2 separate regions of the Homo sapiens genome follow, and region 1 is linked to region 2. A link means that fine-mapping ties the variant in region 2 to the plasma level of a protein whose gene starts in the linked region. Region 2 holds a variant in brackets. A gene starts in the other region. All regions are shown on their forward strands.

Region 1 (8,000 bases), not on the chromosome of region 2:
TACAGGGAAAAGTGTATTTTTCACTCTGTCTTTCTGGGATGAGAAATCAAGAACCAGAAATGTTTATTATTGCCCTAGGAACCTAGGAGAAGACGGGTTGTGGCTTTGTGTCCCTAGGTATTTGGAGGATGGGGAGAAGCTGTCCATAAGTGGTAGCAGGGATCCAGCAATATGGTGGCAGGCTGGACTAAAGGAGAGATGACTGGGAAGCAATTTCCTGTGGTGCATGACAGCTGATGGATGGATGTCAGAAACAGTGGTGTCTGATGATCCATTTGAAGCCATTTCCTCCTCTATATTGCTATTACTGTCCATCTCCCCCTAAATTTTCAGTAAGCACCTATTATATAAAGCACCTTAGTATTAAAAAATGAAGGAGATGAAAGAGAAGGTTGTGCAGTTGTATTTTGGGCCAAGAAGAGTGGGAGAGGTGGCAGGGCCAGCGATGAAGAGCCTGCCAGAGTGATGGAGGCCTGAGCAAGGAGCAAGTTGGTGAAGAAAGATTAGGACATTGCCATGTGGAGTCGCTGTGGAAGCCTGTTTGTTCTCAGAGCTCAGTGGAGAAGAGGTAAAAGTAGGGACCAGTAGCTGAGTCATTATGAGAAAGAGGGTTTCATGGTGGTGGAAGTGACACATTGCCTCGATTCTCTTGAAGCTTTCTGCTTTGTTGCTTGAGTGGAGAGAAGCACCTCTGCTATTGCGTATGGAGGGAAGCTCTTTGCATGGATTTTGAAGGCGGCCTCTGCATTTCGGACTACTGGGTGCTCCCCCACAGGCTCCTAACACCTTGCTGCTTCTCCAGGTGGGGTCTGACGTGGAGTCAGCTCACAGACCTGCCATTCCTCTCTCATAGTACTCCTCATTCCAGTGATATCTTGGCCTGCTTCATGAACCCTGAGCCCAGAGTTCCTAAAGCACCAAACCCAGTGAAGCAGAGACACTTCTGGCATGGGTCTGTGGGTTGCTTCTCAGGGGCCAGGCCAGCAAGAATGATTCAGCACACAGGCCAACCTGTGCAAGCTTTATGCATGCATTTTAGGGCAATGGGAAGAGTGGTGAGTGAGGTTTATGGTAAATCTTTAACCACATTCAATTTTTTCTAAGACTTTTCTGCTTTAGAACATGTAGAAATGGAGAAATGACCAGGGGCTGCACAATGCTGTGCTTATTATATTGCTGTAGAGAGAAGGATGCTGCCAGCTCTCCATAGCCTGGGGTGAACTTGGCCTATGTAATGAGGTAGCAGGGAGTCAGGCAGGTGAGTTCTTCCTCTTGTATTGCCTTTTCCAGTAAATGCCAATACACTCCCCAGCTCACCTTTACCTAACATCTAGGTCTTAATCCAAGTTGTCCTCCCACTCCCCAGGGTGAATTGATCTTCCTGCCACGGCACCTCCTGAGCATCTGTTGGCTGAGTCTCCATCCCCACCCGTGAAAACAGCCTTGTGATGTGCTGTTTAATATCACAGAATGGAAACAGTGTTTTGATTCACCAGGATCCAAACACTCTTTTTGTAGAATCTACAAAGTGACATGGATGGCCATATTTTAGAGGACTGTTCCTGCAGCTGGTGGGGAAGCCCTGGTGAGGAGCAGTACAGCAGGCTGTTCTGGCTGGCTCGTTCTGAGCTGTAGGGATGTGACGGAGGCAGGAAGAGTGAGGATGCAGAGGAGGGGAGGACCAAGGAAGTAGAAATGAGCAGCAGCCTGGTAGGACCTGGAGGCTGGTAAGACTTGAGGGGAGAAGCCTAGGATGGGGCTCGGATTTACTATCACAGAGACAGCCAATGGGGTGATGTCAGGAGAAAGGTTGAGGAGTTCAGGTTGGGATATGTTGAATTTGAAATACCTGTAGGGTGTCCAGGCAGAGTGGATCTGAGCTCAAAAAAGTCTGGCTGGAGACTGAGCTAGAGAGAGATGTGGGAGTTCCAGGCATGTGTGGTCCCCAAGAAGGACGGGCAGAGCACGGGTTCTCCCCTGTTTTTAATCCCATACCCTGACACTTCAAATGACTGTTGTGTTTTACTTTCTCTAGTTTATATCAGGAACCCAACAATGATGACAGTAGCTGTTATGGACTGAATTGTGTTCTCCCCCCAAATCCATATGCTGAAGTCCTAAAACCAGGACCTCAGAATGTGACCGCATTTGAAGGTAGGGTCTTTAAAGAGGTAATTAAGTGCACAATGAGGTCACAAGGATGGGCTCTAATCCAATATGACTGGTGTACTTAAAAGAAATAAATATTAAGACACAAACACACACAGGGAAGACCAAGTGAGGATACAGGGAGGAGATGGCCATCTGCAAGCCCAGGAGAGGAGTCTCCAAAGAAACCAACAGTGCTGACACTTTGATCTTGGATTTCCAGCCTTCAGAACTATGAGAAAATAAATTTCTGTTACTTAAGCCACCCAGTCTGTGATAGTTTGTGATGACACCCATAGCAGACTAGTACAGTAGCTAACACTGGATACTTATTATGTGTCAAATACTGTTTTAAGCACTTTGCATATTTTAACACATTTAATATTCATAGCAACCCTATTTGTGGAAGGTAGTACAGTCTACGGCACGGCAGCTATATCGGCCCCTTTATTTTCCCCAGGGTTTGGAGTCTCTTCCACTTTCCAGCTTGTCCTCCTGCCCTTCACTCTACCCGGGACCATATCCTCCAGATTCTCACAGGTCCCTCCATCTCTCCTCAGGTGCCAGGCTCAGCAACCTGCCCTCATTACCTGCCAGTTCCTGACCCTATCTGTCACTAGCTCCTTACCTGGCTGGATTGGTCTTCTGAATACTTGCCATTCCCTGGCATGATGCTTTTGCAAAATAAGAAAATCAATAATAATAATAATAACTGCTAGTGTCTAATAAGCATGTGCTCTTCAATGTCTATTCTCTTACAACTACCTTAACAAATAGGGACATATTATTATTCTCCTTTTAACTTTGCTTTCCAGAGAAGGAGGCTGGGGCTCAGGGAGATGAGGTGAGTTTTTCCAGGTCTCACAGGAACAGGACTGAAGGAAGGAAGCCATGTTTGCCAGGAGAAACCAAATGGACATACAGGCTTTCTGTGGAATACACAGTTCCTGCTATCTTTTGGTTGACAAAGTCTGAGGTCCTAGGAAAGAGAGGAAAGTAATAGAAATATGAATATGAGTGTGTGTGTATTTTGCTTCCCTCACCAAAGTTTTCACAGTCTATATTAATGAGGGCACGATTTTGCCTGTTTTGTTCTCTGCCATATCCTCATTGTCTAGATTAGGTGCCTGCTACTGTGGAGCTCTAAGAGGTTGTTAGAGAAAGAATAGAAGAAAGAAAAGAAGGAAGGAAGGAAAGAAGGAAGAAAGAAAAGAAAGAGGGAAGGAAGGAAAGAAAGAAGGAAGAATGAAAGGAAAGAAGGATAGAAGGGAGAAAGGAAGGAAAGAAGAAAGAAAGGAAGAAAGGAAAGAAGGAAGGAGGAAGGAGAAGGAGAAAGGGTAGGGTGGGGAAGGAAAGAACAAAGGATTGCTTTTCCCTCACTGTGGGCTTGAGCCTGTTCCCTCCAAAGATACAGAGCTTTGGTCTTTACCCATAAAAAAGGATTTTGAAGTCACCCCACCCCGTTCTGTTCCCCCACAGTTTAGACAAGATCCTCATGCTCCACTGGCCACACGAGTGCCCTCAGGAGGAGTAGACACAGGTGGAGGGAGCTCCTTTTGACCAGCAGAGAAAACAGGATGGGGCACTGCCTCACTGAGGACCTGGGGGTGGGAAGGAAAGTGCCAACGGCAGCTCTATAAAAGCTCCCTGGCCAGGGGACCTAGGGCAAGCAGTGGTTTCTCCTCCTTCCTCCCAGGAAGGGCCAGGAAAATGGCCCTGGTCCTGGAGATCTTCACCCTGCTGGCCTCCATCTGCTGGGTGTCGGCCAATATCTTCGGTAAGTTCTGAGGCCATGGAGCCAGGCGGTGGGGAGGGAGCTCCAGTGTCAGCCAGGCTCTGCCCTGGGCCTTCGAACAGGTGCGATCTAATTTAATCTTCACAAATTCCCACATGTCAGTGATTTGCTTTTTTTTTTTCAGATGAAGAGGCAGATTTAGAGAGCCGAACTGAATTACTTGAGGTCACAGAGCTAGTGATTGATGGAGCAGAAATGGGAAATGTGGTTGATCTTCCTAATTCAATTCTAGGTCCTCCTCACCCCACCATTTTGGCAAACTTTTGGCATTGACCTTGGGTTTTTATCCCCTTAGCTATTCCAAAGTCTGTGTCATCCATAACAGGTATTTTAGAAGCAGTAGAAAAAGAAATCTACCTATGAAGTGAAATAGCCCTAAGTTCTGTCTTTGGCTCAGCCACTTACCCATATGACTTCGGGCAAAGTGCCAAGCTTCTGTTTTTTTTTTTTTTTTTTCATTTAAAAAGTAAACAAATAACACACACCTCATGATGCGGTTGTGATTTCTGGGTAGGACCCTATGTGTTACAAGAGTTCTCAATGGAAAAATAAGTCATGTACATTATTAATTAATTGGTATTTCAATGTTTATCTGGAACATGTTACATCTGCAGGGCATGGCTTGATAGATTCAAGAAGAACTTCCTTACGGTTCTCTAACTTACTCCAAATAGCCTCATGGGAATTGCGGCAGGGTGGGGGCGGGCGGGGAACGTGTAGTCCCAGCGTTGATTTTGGGATCCTTCACTTGCCAGTTACGTGACTTTGGGCAGACGACTTTCGCTGCCTGAGACTTGGTGCCTCATGAGTGACAAGGATATATTGCCTGTCACCTCTTAGGAGAATGTTGCACATTAAATGAGCTAATGTCATACTTGTAAGAAAGTGTGCTTAGCTGCCAAATTTTAAAATAGGCTGTCATAGGTAATGATGATGACCCTGGAAAAGCATCTGTGCTTATGAGAGCCCGTCTCTGTCCTGGCAGCCCAGTCCACACTCTTCTTTGATGAACCACTTTTCTTTTCCTAGAGTACCAGGTGGATGCCCAGCCCCTTCGTCCCTGTGAGCTGCAGAGGGAAACGGCCTTTCTGAAGCAAGCAGACTACGTGCCCCAGTGTGCAGAGGATGGCAGCTTCCAGTAAGGCTTATGTCAGCAGCGAACTCTCAAGGTCCAAGATGCCATAAAAAGCATCTTGTGCCTTCCCCCCTCTTCCTGAGCTCTGCCCTGCAACTCCTTTGTGCATGTGAGGCTTGGCCACTGTCATTTGGAGGTGCCTGCCTTTCAGTTCCACTGTCATTTGGAGGTGCCTGCCTTTCAGTTCCCCAAGCTGTTCAACACTGGACAATCTGACCAAGTGAACCCCAATCCATGCTTCATCCTCCCACTGCCCTCCCTTCTCTTCTTGCCATCACTTTTTCTGTGATGGCTTGAATAAACGGCACGTGTGGGGAGTGGGGCAGGTTGAGGAGAGTGTCAAATGATCTGTGCTTTGGGACCTCTCCCTCCTCCAAGTATCCTCTTGAGAAGCTGGGGTGGTGGAAGCAGAGGCTGCCTTGACTTCCTAGTCCTTAGCTGCCACCGACCCTGCCCGGACTAGCTCTCTAGGCTGCCTCTGGGCTTCTGGGTCGCTGTCTCCACATTGAGCTGCTCTCTGAAAGGGGTTTCTCCAGCTGCCCTAATGCAGACTTGGGGCCTGAGACCCTCTCTGTGGAGAGTGTGGTAATAATCTAGACAATTCTTCCCTGCAGAATAGACAGGAATCCTTTGCAATGTGCATGCATTGAAATTTCCTTGTGCTATTCCAGTCATGTTGAATCAGGGGAACTCCATTTATATAACTGCGTTCTGGGAAATGTCTGTGAAACCTCCCTCCCTGCTGCTATCTTATGTACACTCTTAATGTGCCTAACCTCCCACGAGTGTGCAGAGATGCTGCTAGAGCAGTCCCTGCTTAGATCACTGGGAATTCTGGAACAGCAAGGAAGGAGTTAAGGAGGAAGTCTCACTTTCACCAGCCTTATTTATATTCCCATTCCCAACTCTCTTGTTCTGGCCTCTTGCAGTTTCAAACCTGGCCTCTCTTCAGGAGGCTTTGCATATGCTGTTCCCTTTACCTGGAATATCTTTTACCTTCTTATACCTCTGACCATCCTGCAGGTCTCAGTTCAGTCATCATTTCTGGGGAGTCAACTCTATGGCCTGGCCTGACCCCACCCATGTGCTTCCCAATATACCCTGCTGGCCCCTGATCCCACTAACATCCCACCCCCAAGCCCCCACTCCCTATCCATACAATGTGGGCACTGCCTTTACCCTCTGCAGCCTCATAATGCCTGAGGACACTTGGTGGATGTGGCTGAAGCCCTGCACTCCAGGGTGGGTCACTTGTTTTGGGGCTGGCAGGCTGGACAGGTGGTGAATGAATGGCTGGGGCAGGAGGCAGAGCAGGTGCTAGCCAGGCAGGAAAAGTGGGGCCTTTCCTTTCCCAGGTCAGCCACCCTTCTCCACTCCACTCTCTCCCTAATTTAAACGAACCAAAACTTGCAAGAATGGAAATGAAGAAGAAAAGTAGCCTGAGTGGGAGCCGGCATGTGGCTTTGGGGGCCCATCCCAGGGTCACCTGGTCTGTGTCTCCTCCTCAGGACTGTCCAGTGCCAGAACGACGGCCGCTCCTGCTGGTGTGTGGGTGCCAACGGCAGTGAAGTGCTGGGCAGCAGGCAGCCAGGACGGCCTGTGGCTTGTAAGTGGGAGTGGGGGACGTCCCTTGGAGGGACCCTGCTAGGACAACTCACTTCCAGGAATGAGCACTGGGTTTGGGTGGGTGACTGAGCAGGTCCTCCCTCTGGGCTGCTGGCTTCTCCTCTGTGAATAAGAATCATCCCTGCAAGCCATGGAAGGCCCTATTTCCTGCAGGGCCACTGTGAAAGTCCAGTCATTTGTTCAATAAATATCTACCCAGTTCCTCCCATGAGCCACATGCTGAGAAGACAATGGTGAACAGACATCAACATCTCCTGAAATCAGAAAGTGACCAGAAAAATATGAGTGCCTTCTCACCCGTGGTGTGAGGAGTTTCTAAAATTTAAGACTTGGGTCAAAGCTATCCAGTTAAGATAATTATTATAGTGAGTAATCAAAGAAACACAGTCCCTATTTAAAGCATGTCATAACTCTAAAACAATGGTTAACTTAAGCCAACCACCTCAAAATGAGGAAATTGAGCCTAAAACCAAAACTATCCTTTGACGGATTAAAAGCTCTGTTTGGGGTACTGGTTTTATGCATCTAGTATGGTTGTCATGGGGGCACGCTGGCCCCATACTCTCCTGCTGTGTGAGCTTGGCTGAGTCAGGCATCCTCACTGAGCTATGGGTCCTCATCTGTAACATGAATATAGCATCTGCCTTGTATGATGTGAGGATTTAGAACACGTGTAAACACTAGGCACATAGTAGGTATTCAATAGGGGTGATCATTGCTAATGTCTCAGTCCATTTGTGTTGTTATAAAGAAATGCCTGCGGCTAGATAATTTATAAAGAAAAGAGATGTGTTTGGCTCACAGCTCTGCAGGCTGTGCCGAAGCATGCCACTAGCTTCTGCTGCTGCTGAGGACCTCAGGCTGCTTCCACTCATGGTACAAGGGGAAGAGGAACCATCTGTGCAGAGATCATGTGAGAGAGAAAGCTAGAGAGATAGAAGGTGGAGGTGCCAGGCTCTTTTTAACATTCAGCTCTTATGGACACTAATAGAGCTGGAACTCACTCACTCCGAGGGAAGGCATTCATCTCTTCATAAGGGATCCACTTCCAGGACTCAAACACCTCCCACATTGGGGATCAGATTTCAACATGAGATTTGGAGGGGACAAATGCTGAAACTGTAGCAGTTAATGTCACTAGCCTACAAGCAGAGTGGTGAAGCAGCTTCCCCAGGATCACACAGAGAGCCCGTGGAGAAAACTGGACTCAGAAAAGCTCTGTTAATGCCAGGCCTGCACTCTGATCCCATCTCCCCTCCACAGGACCGTGCTCTGGGGTACCTGACTGATGTGGCA
Region 2 (8,524 bases):
TGGCTTTCTATCATAATTAATGCACCCAACCTCTCCTGTGGTCAGCAGGTTGTTATCTGAACTGTGTAGATTGTGAGACATAGAGATTTAATAACAGGCTTGGTGCTCTCTGGTTAATGAGTGGGCTGGGAGTGAGAAATCTAAGGCTCTGGTGATTTCCTACAGAATGTTGGACATTGTCTCTCAGCCTTCTCCACCAGGAGGATCAGAGTGGTTCTTCCATCAAGAGTTCTCTCATCATTTTTTGCTCTTAGTGCATCTGAGTTCTTGAATGTCTTCACTCTTGCAGAATATTGGAGTCACTTAGAAGTTCACTTTCATGTCAGACATAACTGGATCATGCTTCTCTCAAAGAGGATAATAGTAACCCCTGGGAGCTCAAATTCAGAAGCTTGCCTCCAAGTGCAGCTTTAAGTCTCAAGGCTATGTGCTGGTCCAGGACAGTTGGTAGATTAGGTCTCCCCTTGCATACAACCCAGTGAAACAATTCAACCTAGCACAGCTTCAACAAGCACGAACCATATATGAAAGTGCAGGTAGCAGAGGGCATGATGGCCATGCATGATTATTTGGGGAAAGTGGACAGTGGTAACTCTCTGCATAGTCCTGTCTGATCATCTCCTCCCAAGAGACCCCAGCCATCTTTCTTTGCCACCATCCTCTTTCTCCCAGTGAGCTCATCTGAATACCTGCCTCATTGAAGCATCAGGCAAGTGCTCATCGAGCCCAGCCTCTATGACTAAATCCGCTGTTTCTATGGAGAATACAGAGGAAGAAGACGTGATCTTGACTCAGGAAGGTCAAAATATAATTGTGAGATAAGACAAACATCCATGAAACAATTAGAGAACAGAATAATATATAATTGAGTGGCAGACGGCATGGTTCAGAAATTAAGTGGAATAGCAAGTCTGAAGTCAGGGAAGTCTGTGAGGCCCAGAAGAGTCAAAGAAGGTTTCATGATGGAAATTGATGGATAGAATTTGGAAAGGAGAGGGATAGGCATCCAGATGAAGGAGATGATGGTGTCGAGTAAATGCTGGGAGGCAGAAACGCCTCTGGTGACAGGATACTGCTGAGTGATTGAACAGGAAATGGATGTGAGGGACTGGGGAAAGATAGAGAATGGAGCAGATCCTGGAGAGTCTTGAAGACCAAACAGAGGATCTTAGACTGGGTAGGACATGGGAGTCGTGGAAGGAGTCAGAACAGTAGAATGGCTTGATAAAGGCAGCATTTAGGGAAAATGAGTCTGGCAAGGTAGATTGGATTCTGAAGATTCTAGAGGCTGGTAAGAAAGCTATTGTTACAGGACCTACACATGAGATGGCAGTGGTCCCAGACCAGTGTGGTACAAGTGGAGTAAGGAGAAAAACATATCTTTAAGGAAAAACATGAAACACCAGTCAGCTGACAGGATTATGTAGGATACAAACTACATCAAGTCAGCACCTAATGGATATCTTCTGCAGACAACAGTCTATTTTTGCTCAGGATAAGAGAGAAGTCTAATTATTTTCCATAGATTTATTCCTAAGACTAGCAAACTTGTCTCATACTTCCCTCCCTGTCCCTTGAGTTAACCAAGTCCTTTCTAGAAAATTCTCCAGGTATCAGTCCCCATCCTGAGAGTTCAGGCCAAAATTTCTCTTGCAGGCCACCCTCCTGCCACCTGGAGCATTCTGCTCCCTCAAAGCTTCTCCTTCCTCACAGCTGGACTCATGCTCCTGAGGGTCATTTTCCTAGGATCTGTTCCTCAGCTACTGTTTGATGAACAGGAAACATTTTTCCTCTTTCTTCCTCACTGACCAATATGGTTTGGCTCTGTGTCCCCACCTGAGTCTTATCTCTAATTGTAATCCCCATGTATCGAGGGAGGTAGGTGATTGGATCATAGGGTGGTTTTCCTCATGCTGTTCCCCTGATAATGAGTGAGTTCTCACAAGATCTGGTGGGTTTTGTTTTTGTTTTGTTTTGAGATGGAGTCTGGCTCTGTCACCCAGGCTGGAGTGCAGTGGTGCTATCTCGGCTCACTGCAACCTCCGCCTCCCATGTTCTAGTGAGTCTCCTGCCTCAGCATCCAGAGTAGCTGGAATTATAGCTGCCCAACACCACGCCTGGCTCATTGTTGTATTTTTAGTAGAAACAGGGCTTCACCAAGTTGGCCAAGCTGGTCTCACACTCCTAACCTCAAGTGATTGGCCCACCTCAGCCTCCCAAAGTGCTGCAATCACAGGCATGAGCTGCCGTGCCTGTCTGATGGTTTTATAGGGCATTCTTCCCCTTCACTCACTCCCCTCTCTTGTTGCCATGTGAAGAAGGTCCTTGCCTCTCCTTTGCCTTCCGCCATGATTGTAAGTTTCCTGAGTTCTCCCCAGCCATGTGAAACTGTGAGTCAATTAAACTTCTTTCCTTTATAAATGATCCAGTCTTGAATATTTCTTTCTAGCAGTGTGAAAATGGACTAATATCCTGACTTAGTTTTATTTCTAGTTTGTGGGCTTCTCCCATCTCTCCCTTCTGTCTTTATTGATATTGAGGTAGCCGCCCACTGATATTTGGCTACTTGGCAGCATACTTCAGGTCAAGATGATTAACTTTTCTAGGCATGTACATAGTTATATTTGACATAAATAAAGTGTGTGCTACATACAGGAAAAAGAGGTATCCAGTCCATCTGATGTTTTGAAAGGGGAAGCAAGCCACCACAACTGGAACACAAATGATGAAAATCAAGATGTTGTATGTTTAGACTGACAGGTCTTAGACAGGTTTCAGGAGAAATTTTGAATCACAGAAGGCAAGAACTCTAAAGCATCATCAACATGTTCTGTTTGACCTACATATGGTTTTTATAATTGTTGTTGTTTTATTTACATTTTTAGCAAATATTTAAAATTAAGACATTTTCACATAATAATCCAGGGACAGTTTTGTTTTGTTTTGTTTTGTTTGAAACAGAATCAAAAGATGACAATTATCAGCTAGTGCTGAGTATAGCTGTCCCCTGTAGACAGGGCAAGTATTCTCCTCCTTACCTACCTTTTGAGTACTTATCGGGGCCTGTGAATATTTCAGCTGTGACCCCTGATTTAACTAATCCCTCATTTTACAAAGAAGGGAGATTGAGGCAAAGAGAAGTTAAATGACTTTTTCAGTATTTCCCAAGAGGCTGATATCAGTACGGGGATGAGAACTGAGCTTTGCTGGCCAGTCGTGGTGGCTCACACCTGTAATCCCAGCACTTTGAGAGGCCAAGGCAGGCGGATCACCTGAGGTCAGGAGTTCGAGACCAGCTTGGCCAACATGGCAAAACACTGTCTCTACTAAAAATACAAAAATTAACTGAGTATGGTGGTGGGTGCCCAGCTACTCAGGAGGCTGAGCAGGAGAATCACTTGAACCCGAGAGGCAGAGGTTGCAGTGAGTTGAAATCTTGCCATTGCACTCCAGCCTGGGCAACAGTGCAAGACTCCGTCTCAAGAAAAAAAAAAAAAAAACTGAGCTTGGCTATAAGGCCTCACTCCCTTTTCTCTCCTTTTAAGGACTGTAGTTGTTTCTCAAATACAGGATCCAAAAGGTTGGTAATTGGGGCCAGGAGTTTGAAACCAGCCTGAGCAATATAGTGAGACCCCATCTCTATAAAAAGTTTAAAAATTAACTAGATGTGATGGTGCACACCTGTAATTCCAGCTATTCGGCAGGCGGAGGCAGGAGGACTGCTTCAGTCCGGGAGTTAGAGCTGTGATGAACTCTGAGCATACCACTGCACTCCAGCCTGGGTGACAGAGCAAGACTTTGTCTTGGGAAAAAGAAAAGAGAAAGAAAGGAAGGGAGAGTGAGAGAGAGAGGAGAAAGAAAGAGAGAAAAAGGAAGAAAAAGAAAGGAAGGAAGGAAGGAGAGAGAGAGAGAAAGAAAAAGAGAGAGAGAAGGAGGAAAGAAAGAAAAGAAAAGGAAAGGAAAGGAAAGAAAAGAGAAGGCAACCTGGAGAAAGGCAAAGACCAGCATGTGTGAAGATGCTCATCAGTCAAAACTGATATTCTGAATATCAACTGAGGGATATTGAATAGGTCACCCTGAGAGCCAGAATCTGAGAAAACCCGGAATAGTAGTATTTCTCATCTGCGACCCTTGATGGAATTGTATTTTAAGTGATTGCACTGGCTGCTTACAATGCCAAGACGGAACATACTTCAGAATTAGCTTTTTCCTTTGATTATACTTTGTTGGGTTAAAAAATAAAAAAGTGGACTTGCAAATATAG[C/T]AGTTGTGACTACAGCATTTTAAGCATTTGTATTGAAGATGTCCCAAATTTCTAAATGAAAGTTACTAATAAAAAATATTCATGTATATTTTCCTGTTCACTTTCCTCTCCTAACCTCATTTTGTGTCTTTAGAACTCTAGCCTGAAACATTGGTTCAGCTAGTCTGTCTTGAATATGTTAAAATGACATTGGTTGTTGGCTAGAAGCTCAAGGCTGCGCTGCCTCCCACAGACAGCAGTGCTGTGATCTCTGCAGCTCACAGAGCGAGCGGGAGGGGGCCGCGATCATCTGCTTATCATTATTGATGTGGCTTCGGCGACCTCTGCTGTGTTTCTGTCCAGTGTGATTCTGGATGCAATTCAGAAAACACCTGCTGAAATCCTGGCAAGAGATCCAAGTGCGTGCCAAGGCGAGGTGATTGGTGTGGCTCTTGAACAATGTGAAGGTCAACCTCTTGGCTCTCCTTTAGTAGTTATTTTAATGAAAGAATTCTTTACTGAGTGAATTTGAACAGACCTCGCACAGGCTGGCATTTCTACTTTTTGCATAGTAACACTCAAAATAGCCTTTTGTCTAAAGTGGAAGAAGGATGGAGATTTTACAGGGCATTTACAATTGAAGGACAGACATAGAAGAGAGATTCTCTGTGTTCTTTGAAATATAGGGAAGCTTTAAAATTAATTTTTGATCTTTCCTTTCACTACTCCACCCGTGTCCTCCTCAAAGAAATTATACCTCTGTGACTGCTTTCTTTTATTCTGGGGAAACTTTCTTCCTCCTCCTCAAGCTCTTAGAACTTTTGGCTGATGTGACAAGATCACTTCCTCTCCACTGGTGAGGAAGTTTCAGCCCTATCACTTATGCTGTTGTATTCAATATAGAGTCTACATTTCCATCTACCACGTAAATATGTGAGCTGTAAATGAGAGATAAAAACACCATAGAGATATTTGACTCTTAGAGTGATAGTAGAAGGTTACTGTACATAAAATGGTCATTTGACCTTGGACCACACTGACGTAATAATATTAATGATGACACGATCATAATAATTAACATGTATGGCAAATTTAGCATGTGCTAGAAACTGTGCTAGGTATTATCTAATTTTGTCTGCATAATGCCCCTGTGTTCCTCTAAATGGGTTAAGTTTTAGTTTTAGGGAGTGAAATTTAAGAGGGATACAGGCAAACCAAAGTACATTGCCATCCGGGGTGGGACCAACTGAATAGAGCAGTGATTCTCAAGCTTGTCCCTGCAGTGGAATCTCCTGGAAGGCCGATTAAAACCCAGATTGCTGGGCCCACCACTGTGCATCTCCCCCCAGAGTTTCTGATTCAGTGGCCTAGGGTGGGACCCCCAAATTTGCATTTTTCTAAGTTGCCAGGCAATGCCGATACTGCTGATCTCGGGGCACACTTTGAGAATTGCTGTCCTAGAGCTCAAAACCGTATCACCCATGGAACAGCTGCAGTAATCCAGAATGCTTTCCTTAGAGAAGAGACTGCTCTGGGGTGCCCAGAAGGCTCCTGGGGCCTGTCGAAGACCTGGAGGGTGTTCGTGATACCAAGGATCTGAACCAGGACCAGTGGAAGTGACATTGAGACAAACAGCCTGAGAATAAAGGAGAACAGATGGAGTGGGTCCTGCCAGGGGAGGCCACAAAAATAAAAGATATGGGGATGTGCTTGAACATAAAGGGTGGTGGGTTGCTGAGCAGGGATTGTGTACTTGTGGCCCTGAGGCTGGACACAGCCTGCAGATGTTCTCCAGTGGGAATGCACAAGGCTGTGAGGCATTTTAGCTTGAATGCTATTGAAGGTGTATATCCACCAGTTCACCCGGTCCATATTATCTCTTAGCCCCCACCGAGTCACCCACTTATACTTATCAGCCTGACCACATGTGGTCCTGGAGCTGAAGGGTGTACATGCAGCAGGGTGGTCAAGCAATAGGCAAATGCTGGATTCAGTTTTTTTTTTAATTATCTGTTATTTGAACTCCAAAGAATGAAAGTCAGGATGCTAGGTGAATTGTTCGCTTGTAGGTAGTAAACCTGCAATTGTATGCCAAAAGAGAGGACCCACTAAAAACTACTCTACAATGGAAGCCAACTCTAACATTGCCTGCAAGGACAGAACTTCCTAGTGTGCCTTTCTCAGTAGGGCACAGCGCTGGTTCCACGTTAAAAGAGCTGACCCACAGGGCCCACATAGCGAAAAGACATCCAAGGACTGCAGCTGGACTCATCCTTTCCATCTCCTCCTGCACACATCACCCCAGGTCTGCCCTCCCTGAGCCCTGGTGGGCTGGTCTACCCTGCTAGGAGACAGGAGGGCTGCCGGGAGGCTGGAAAACTAGGCAAGAAGTCTTGGAAGGCAATGACCAAGGCTTAGCAGGAAGAGAGATAAAGAAGGAGGGTTTAGGATTGATTACAAAATGTCTGGCACCAAGAGTGGAAGATTCTTGTGAAGAAAAGCTTATTATAGGAATTTCTGGGGAAAGAAAGAATATAAGGTGAGGAGCAGTGGCTCATGCCTATAATCCCAGCACTTTGGGAGGCCGAGGCAGGCAGATCACCTGAGTCAGGAGTTCCAGACCAGCCTGGCCAACGTGGCGAAATTCTGTCTCTACTAAAAATACAAGAACTAGGCAGGCATGGTGGCATGTGCCTGTAATCTCAGCTACTCAGGAGGCTGAGGCACAAGAATCGCTTGAACCCGGTAGGCAGAGGTTGCAGTGAGCAGAGATTGTGCCATTACACTCCAGCCTATGCAACAGAGCAAGGCTGTGTCAAAAAAAAAACAAAAACAAAAAACAGAAAAGAAAGAATATAGAAAAATTGAAATGACAGCAAGAAGTAACAAGACCAAATTAAGAAAAATTTAGAAATGGGAAATCTGGATACATTGTTATGAGAACTATATTGACTTGACTGTGATGGACTCTTTGTCCTTGAAACATTCCAAATAAAATCAGAGAAAGAGCTGGAAGTATGCTTCAGAAGAATCTTTCACTGATGTGTCTAAATGGCCTGATTCCATCTTTTCCATCTTTGCCTTCTAGTTTTGGTCACCAGGTATTTGGCATTATAATTCCCAGGCCAACACACTGCTGTCACCATTATGAGAATTCTGGGGTGGAGGGACAGTGATTTTCCCCTTCCTTACCTCGTGTCTTCATTCACTCTCTTCCTCTTCCTTCTTTTCCATCCTCCCGTCTTCTCTCCCTCCCTTCCTTTCTGTTTCTCCTTTATCACATTAAATGCAGCTGACTACAAATAAGGAAAGGAAAACTTGGGGAACGCTGTGGTGTGGGTTTCTTCCAATAATAACCTTGGCAGGTAATTTTTGCATATACAGACTGAGTCATTTTCTTATAACTGAGATCAGGGGCTGGATTTCTCCCAGGAGAAAAAACACTTATATTAACGTGTTTATGTTTTGGAATAATAATATTTGTCCATGTGAAAATATGTGTGAGTCCTTTCTGCCACACCATCTGGCGTATAACTATTCATAATCCAAACAGTAGCAGCTGCTGCAGAGCACGAGGATGAGTTTTCTTGAAGTAAAAATGGGCTAACTATTGGATGCCACACGTAGCTTTCACAGCATCACCGGTTACTCACCAGAAACCTACATAGCAGTCCCTTCCATTAATCCATTAGGTTCTTTATTAATATCACAAAAGCTCACTTTGCTATCTTCTTCCATTCCATCCAGTAGAGAAACTCTATCGTTTAACCTTACTCTCAACCTGTGGCCCTTGTACCTTGGGAACATGCATGTGTTTTACCCAAAACTGTTGGCAACTGAAGGTGTCAGTTTGGGTTTTGTTGACTGATGACAGCTGCCAGAAAAATTGCCGGGAATTTTTGCTGCAGTTCTCCACTGCGGCTTCCTACACTGCTGAACCACATTCATTATGTGTTTGTGGCTAATCAGACACATGGGGACACAGCAGCAGTTGATGAATCCCTCTCGGGCCGCTCGGCAAGGCTCTGATGTAATGGAAAGTGTAGGGTAACGCTTTCTACAGATCATTTGAATGCGGTTTGCAGAAACCCTTGAGGTTTAAGAAGGAAGTGGTTTGCGGAATAGGTGCTGGATGCTACTGTATAGAAACCACCACAATCGACAGTACAAAAGAGACCAATTTCACAGGGGAGAATTATCTGCAAGACTTTTTTCATTGCATAGTCATTCTGAGTCTCCCCCAAAAGTTGGAGGTTTTTGAAAGATAAAATTCTTGGCTGG

Direction of the effects. Positions count from the first base shown, and alleles are read on the strand shown. Strength reflects both the effect of a copy and how common the allele is.
For the plasma level of the protein whose gene starts at base 3,816 in region 1, T is the high allele of the variant in region 2 and C is the other (weak association).

Evidence for each region. PIP is the posterior inclusion probability: the model's chance that the variant is causal. Protein levels are from antibody-based Olink assays in UK Biobank. Linkage for the fine-mapping came from a reference panel and not from the study's own genotypes, which makes the PIPs less certain.
Region 1: TG starts here. The variant in region 2 is fine-mapped to the plasma level of the TG protein (UK Biobank, PIP above 0.99).

What each region holds. Positions count from the first base shown.
Region 1 is chr8:132,863,143-132,871,142 of GRCh38, forward strand. TG (thyroglobulin) reads left to right here and starts at 3,816. Exons shown (of 48, transcript NM_003235.5): 1 at 3,816-3,925; 2 at 4,973-5,081; 3 at 6,587-6,684. The coding sequence starts at 3,859.
Region 2 is chr6:148,195,892-148,204,415 of GRCh38, forward strand. It overlaps a transcript of SASH1 not described here. Among named protein-coding and RNA genes, the nearest start is that of SASH1, 140 kb to the right of the region's middle. The variant C/T (reference allele first, on the strand shown) is at 4,265.